Homo sapiens: one gene and its partner. The protein of the gene in region 2 interacts with the protein of the main gene of each other region in a pairwise test. Each region holds a gene or a part of one and is shown on either strand. Other genes may lie near its edges.

Region 1 (3,829 bases), on a different chromosome or scaffold from region 2:
TTCTCCAGATTTCTATGTCTTTGGGTCTTGCAGATTTCAAGATTTTTTGATAAAACAAAACTGAGGTTGTTGTTCTATAGGTTTTGATGGTCGAATGTAAAGCATCTAGTACCCTTCCTGGAACCATGTTGGCACACAGTAAATGTTCCTTTTCATCATCCCAAGTTTAAGGAACAAGAAAGTCAGTCTGAATTTGTGAAAGTTTTTTTCTGCAAAAGAATTTTTTTCCTGATTATAATTGCAATTCATGCTCACTGCAGAAAACCTGAAAATATAAAAAATCAAGAAGAAAAATAAGCCATAGTCCCACAACCCAGGGATTAATAACCTGAAATTTTGGTGAATTTCCTTCTTTTCTCTGAATACATTTATTTTATATATTGTGTGTAATCTTGTGCATATTGCTCTATAGTGGATTATGACCATTCTCAGAGAATAGCACATTTTTATTTACTTTAGAGACACAGTAGAACTTTTATTTTTTTATTATTTTTTTGAGACGGAGTCTTGCTCTGTCACCCAGGCTGGAGCGCAGTGGCACCATCTTGGCTCACTGCAACCTCTGTCTCCCGGGTTCAAGCAATTCTCTTGCCTCAGCCTCCCAAGTAGCTGGGATTACAGGGATGCGCCACCACGCCTGGCTAATTTTTTTGTATTTTTAGTAGAGACGGTGTTTCACCATATTGGTCAGGCTGGTCTCGAATTCCTGACCTTGTGATCCGCCCTCCTCGGCCTCCCAAAGTGCTGGGATTACAGGACAGTAGAACATTTTTAAGAAAAGGTAATTTTATGGAAGTACATACTAAAACATTGGTGACAAGTAAAAGAGACTTCAGTACCATAGGTTTGCATGAATTTAAATGTCTTTAGTCAGGGCGTACATTCTGTAATTCACTACAAATACTATTGCTTCCTGTTCTTGAATACCACTTCACCATTCGTTTTCTTCTCCTGGCCAGTGACGGCATTTAAATTTGCGCTTCATATGTCAAACAAAAGGAAAAATTATTGCAAAAAATATTGCAGATCACTAAGAAAACAAACAGTGAAGTGGTATTCAATAATAGGAAGCTATAGGATCAGTGGTGAATTGTAGAATGAATGCCCTACCTAAAGATATTCAAATTCAGCTTAAAAAAAAACATGATAATAGCCAAACAAAACATGTGGCTCACAAGCTACTTAATTGTGAGCCCTGATTGAAAGCATTTATCCATTCCTACTTTATCCCTGACCCTGTGTTAGGTGTTACAGGTGGGACAGATCAATAAGCAGGGAGCCCGCAAATATATAAATAAAGCTCACTTTATTTAGAAAGGCAAGATATGTTAGTGGCTCTCAGTGGAACAAAAGTTCAGGCATCTAAGTTAACATTTCCATTGCTTACAAGCCCCACTTGATAAATTCCCTGTGGAACTCAGCTATATCCTGGCTAAGTGCTTTTATTGATCTGTTTATAATAATTCTCTACCTCCCCAAAAACATTTTAAATGGTTTCTGTCATTTCTTTGGTAGCAGTCACAACTTGTAAAGAATATACTTTAATTGCATTTCTATTGTCCAAGAAGGTGGCAATATTGTCCAAGAAGGTGCTTGAACATGGCTATATATTGTCTGTGGCTGCTTTTGTGCTACAACAGCAGAGTTGAGTAGTTGCAACAGAGATCCTATAGCTCTCAAGCCTAAAATATTTATCTGACCCTTTACAGAAAAGCTTTTCTGATCCCTCCTCTAGATTATTGTTACCTGTTTTGAAATATGTATAAATGGAATCAAACAGTTAACTTACATTTAAGTGAAAATGTGTAATAAGCAATAGAAATGCAAAAACCCATGACTATGCATCTAACAACAGAGCCTCAAAATACATGCAGCAAAAACAGACAGAACTGGGGAGAAAAATAGACAATTTAATAATAATGGTTGAAGACTTCAATATCCTACCTTCAGTGATGAACAGAACAACTAGATGAAAGATCCAGTATCCCACTCTCAGTAATGAATAGAACAACTAGATAGAAGATCAAATATCCCACTTTCAGTAATGCATAGAACAATTAGACAGATCAGCAAGGAAATATAAGACTTGAATCACGCTATAAACCAACTAGACCTAACAGGTATCTGTAGAACACCATTCAATAACATGAGAATGCCTATTCTTCTCTAGTGCGTATAGAACATTATTCAGGATAGAACATATATTAGACCATAAAATAAATCTCAATAAATTTATAGAGATTGATTTCATACAGAGTATGTTCTCCACCTACATGGAATGAAATTAGTAGTCAATAACAAGGAAATTTGGTAAATTTACAAATATGTAGAAATAACACACTCTTAACCAATGAGTCACAGAAGAAATTACAAAGGAAATTAGAAAATGCTTTGAGATAAATGAAAACAAAAACAACATACTAAAACTTAGATGCTGGCAAAGCAGTACTCAGAGGTTACTGTATGAATTTAGTACTCATATGAATTTATACTAATATACATTACATTGAAAAGAAGATCTCAAATCAGTAACCTAGCATTTCATCTTAAGAAACTAGAAAAAGAAGAGCAAACTAAAACATATTTATAAACTCCTTTATGCACAGCCCTGTGTTGGGTATAGACACAAGCTAGCAGAAGAAAGGAAAATTAAAGATTATAGCAGAGATAAAACAGAGAATAAAGAAACTACAGAGAGAACTGATGAGACCAAAAGTTGGCTCCTTGAAAAGACCAACAAAATTGACAAACCTTTAGCTAGGTTGACTGGCCTAGAAAAGAAGATTCAGATTACTAAAATCAGAAATGAAAGTGAGGACATTACTACCAACCTTGCAGAAATAAAAGAGATTATAAGAGAACACTATGAGCAATTGCATGCCAGCATCCCTGTGTGACTTCAGAATGTGAATGTGTGCCTGCAGAAACAACATACTCTCCAATCCCAACACAGTTTATACATCATCAAATAACCACATGAAAGGAAAGAGATTTGAGTCTCAGAAATGGCTTTGAGCTCCCTGCCTGGTTTGTATTTGGCTTACTTTTCTGGTGTCTAGGGATAGGCCAGTAGGAGGGTTAATGGAATCTTAAGTCATGCCAAATATAAAGATCATAAAGTCTATGTTTCCGTTGTCAGTGGGGTGGTACATCAGAAGGCTGACTGGGACAGCATCCATGAGAAAATATGTCAGCTCTTGATTCCACTGCGCACTTCCATGCCCTTCTACAATTCAGAGGAAGAACGGCAGCATGGCCTGCAGCAGCTGCAGCAGCGGCAGGTAGGGCCTACGGCACTTTCCAAGGTTAAGTCGTAGGTGCGGTGAAGCTGCCCAAGACAAGGCTCGAACTGTGTTGGGATCACTAAATTGTAACCTCACGGAGGGCAGAGACTTTGTTTTATATCTTTTTAAGTCCTCAACACCATCCAGTCTGTTGTTTTCCACATTTACTAAATACTTACTGTATTAGTCTGCTAGCACTGTCACAATCAAATATCACAAACTGGGTGGCTCAAACAGCATACATTTATTTCCTCACAGCTCTGGAGGCTGGGAAGTCCAAGATCAAGGGGTCAGCAGGTTTGGTTTCTTCTGAGGCCTCTCTTCCTGGCTTTCAGATGGCTGCCTTCCTACAGTGTCTTCACATGGTCCTTTGTGTGCAAGCATGCCTGGTATCTCTTTGTGTGTCCAATTTCCTCTTTTTATAAAGACACAAGTCAGATTAGGTTAGGGCCCACCCTAATGGCCTCATTCTAACTTAATCACCACTCTACAGGCCCTAGCTCCAATTATAGTCATGTGACAGACTGCAGGATAGGGCTTCAACA
Region 2 (3,829 bases):
TTTAAAGGCAGGATACAGAAAAAAATACCTTAAAATATAATGACAAGACAGTCTTGCAAGCAAAGAAATGCAAAGTTATTATAGTTACCATAATGAAAAATCACAAGAAAGAGACATCTTTTAAGGTGAAACATGAGTAACAGTAAATTGCCAAATAAATAATATTATAGGCATATACGACATGAACAAAAGTAACAGAAAAAACCCATAGTGGACCTAGGCAACTAAATTAATTTGATATGCTTAAAGCATAAAATGGTGGCGAAAGGGGCTGAACTACAGTTAAAAAAAAAAGTTGGATAAGGGACGGGATTATGACGGCTATTTCCGCCCATGCAAAAAAGTACATTTTAGCTGTTTAGTAATGAGGAACCACTGGGGAAGTTTCAGTAAGGGAATGACATGTATACATCTCGTTTGGAAAGATCACTGTAGAAACTATCTGAAAGATACACTGGAGAAGGCGCAGGCTACTGTCAGTCCAATAAAAATGCCAGTCTATTGCAATCTATAGACTACCTCATCCAACAAAAACAGAATGCACATTCTTTTCAAGCTCGCACGTAACATTTCACCAAGGTGGACAACATTCTGGGCCATAAAATACAATCTAACAAACTTAAGAGAATAGCAATCATATGGCGTCTGCTCTAAGACCACAACAGAATTAAACTACAACTAATAACAGAATGGTAGCTAGAAAATATCTCAAAATACTTGGATATTAAACAACACACTTCTAAACAATAATGGTTCAAAGAATTTTTTTTTTTTTTTTTTTTTTTAAAGACAGAGTTTCACTCTGTCACCCAGGCTGGAGTGCAGTGGCACAATCTTGGCTCACTGCAACCTCTGCCTCTGGAGTTCAAGTGATTCTTATGCCTCAGCCTCCCACATAGCTGGGATTACAGGTGCATGCCACCATGCCCGGCTAATTTTTGTATTTTTAGTAGAGATGGGGTTTTGTCATGTTGCCCAAGCTAGTCTCAAACTCCTGAGCTCAAGTAATCCGCCACTTTAGCCTCCCAAAGTGCTGAGATTATAGGCGTGAGGCACCACACCCAGTCCAAAGAAGAAATCTTAACAGAAATTTTAAAATATATTGAACTAAATGAAAATAAAAATACAACTATCAAAATCTATGCAATGTAGCTAATGCAGTGCTTAGAGGAAAATTTATAGTATGAATGCATATATTAGAAACAAAAAATCTAAAATGAATACGCTTCCACTTTAGGAAAGTAGAAAAAGAAGAGCAAATTAAATCCGAAACAAGCAGAAAAAAATTATAAAAATTAGAGCAGAAATAAATGAAACTGAAAATAGGAAATAGAGGGAAAAAAATCAAGAAAATCAAAAGCTGTTTCTTTGAAAATATCAATAAAATAAGCAAGCCTCTACCACTGGGCAGGGGGAAATGCAGAGTTGTTCGAACATGAGTTTCAGTTTCAGTTTTGCAAGATGAAAAAGTTCTAGAGATCTGTTGTACAACAATGTCAATATAGTTTGCACTACTAAAATGGACACTTAAAAATTGTTGCTCTCTCCTCTGCTCGCATTTTCACTCTGCCATGCCCTGCTCTGAAGAGACACCCACCGTTACCCCCAGCAAACAGGCTGGTTTGCAGAGGAAGGCAGCATGCAGCTCCGTTTTGCCCCATTCTCTGAGCAGGCCACAACCCTGACTCAGGGATCCACACAGGCCACAGGCTATGACCTCAACGGTGCCTATGATGATACAATACCACCTATGGAGAAAGCTCTAGGGAAAATGGACATTCAGATAGCTCTTCCTTCTGGATGTTACAGAAGAGTAGCTCCATGGTTTGGATTAGCTGCAAAACACTTTATTGATAGATGAAGATTACTGAGGAAATGTTGGTGCTGTACTGTTTAATTTTGGCAAAAAAAAGTTTAAAGTCAGAAAAAGTGATCGTATTGCACAGCTCATTTGTGAATGAATTTTTAATCCAGAAATAGAAGTTCAAGCTTTGGATGATGCTGAAAGGCATTCAGAAGAGTTAGGTTCTATTAGAAAGTATTAAAATTTATGCTAAGAATAGAAAATGAGAACTCATACCTTTTTCTTAAAAGAGTTTTTGCTTAAAGCATTTTGGTAAAACTTCTGTAATCTTAATAGCTTTACCTTCTAAAAGTACTGCATTTTCTTATGATCAAAGAAAAGAGTACCTCTGTTCAGATCACACAGAAATTTTTTCTGCTGATAGTTGTATGTAAATCTGCTTTGTCCTGATATAAGACAGTGTCTTTTTAAAATCAAATGTACATCAATTACAGACCCCAAAAAACCCTATATAATTTAACTTAGTAAATGATACACCAAAAAAAAGGGAATTGTTAAGACAGTAATTTTTTTAAATTACTGTCTTAAGACAAGAAAAAAAGAAAAAAAGAGAAAACACAAATTACTAATATCAGAAATCAAAGAGAGGACATCACTATAAACCCCTGGACATTAAAAGGATAATAAAACAATACTATGAACTTTGTTCCCACAAATTTGACAACTTTATCAAAATAGACCAATTCCTTGGAAGACACAATCTGTCAAAACTCACACAAGAAGAATCAGATAATCTGAAGAGACCTATATTTATAGGAGAAATCAAATCAACAATAACTTTCCAAAACAGAAAGCACCAGACCCAAAGCAGTTCACTGGTGAATTCTACCAAACATTTAAGGAAGAAATTACATCAGTTCTCTACAATCTCTTCCAGAAGATATAAGCAGAGGGAATACTTGCTAATTTATTCTATGAGACCAGCATTACCCTAATACCAAAAACAGACAAAGACATCAAGAAAACTATAGACTAATATTTCTCATGAACACAAATGTAAAAATCCTCAAAATATGATCAAATCAAATCCAACCACATCTAAAAAGAACTATATACCACAAACAAGCAGGATTTATTCCAGGTATGAAAGTTGCTTCCATATTCAAAAATCAACTAATGTAATCCATTACATCATCAGGCTAAAGAGGAAAAAGTTACTGCAATGGGCTAGGTAAAGCTGGTGAATGTATGTATCAGAGCACAACTACAAGTAGTTATCCGCTCATTCACACCATGTGCCAACACCTGGACTACAGTGAAAAGTAAGACAAAACTCCTGTCCTTATGGAGTCTACAATCCATCAGAGAAGCATCGTACAAGTAAATCACAAGTCCCTATCACAGGGACTCAACCTAGAGTCAAGAGAAGTGACAGGCTGATGATGATGGAGCACTATCTAGAGGTTATAAAACAGGTATGAAGTATGACTGAGGGTAATATCTCAAGCAGGATATATTAAAGTCCTAAAGCAAAAGAAAAAGTACATGTTAGATGAACTGAAAGGAACCCAGGTTTGATATCATAGAAAGAAGAGACAAGAATTTACATGATGGTTGTGGTTTCACTGATTATTGGGTAAAAATAAAGGTAGAAGAAGGAAAAACATATGGGTGCTTATGAAACATCTTAAATGACGTCTGAGGTAGATAGGAAAGAGTAAAGGGCTGATATACTTTAAAAAGATAAACAGATCAAGCAAGCGGAGGATACAAAGAGAACAGAGAATAGGAGCATATTAGAAAAATTTAAGAAGGCAAGAATTACAGAATTTGTAGGAAAAACCCTTGAATGTGTGATATTTTTCTAGTTACGTTGAAGATTCAAATGTTTTACTCTTTAAGGAGAAACCTAGAAGTTAGATAAAATATCTTTTAAAATTAAGCATTTAAAATTTAATACCAAAATAATCCTGAGAAATATTGTTATCCTGAAAGAAATAAGCTTCTAAAATAATATAATACAAG

Evidence for each region.
Region 1: the proteins of ZNF148 (region 2) and ZMYND12 interact in binary tests that used the Homo sapiens proteins (3 or more experiments, as listed by UniProt).

Annotation. Positions count from the first base shown.
Region 1 is NC_000001.11:42,449,370-42,453,198, reverse strand, and holds part of ZMYND12 (zinc finger MYND domain-containing protein 12), read left to right. Parts: intron 1-3,139; coding exon 3,140-3,281; intron 3,282-3,829. UniProt on the Homo sapiens protein: Required for sperm flagellum function and male fertility.
Region 2 is NC_000003.12:125,309,312-125,313,140, forward strand, and holds part of ZNF148 (zinc finger protein 148), read right to left. Parts: intron 2,187-3,829; exon of another isoform or gene 1,552-2,186; intron 1-1,551. UniProt on the Homo sapiens protein: Involved in transcriptional regulation. Represses the transcription of a number of genes including gastrin, stromelysin and enolase. Binds to the G-rich box in the enhancer region of these genes.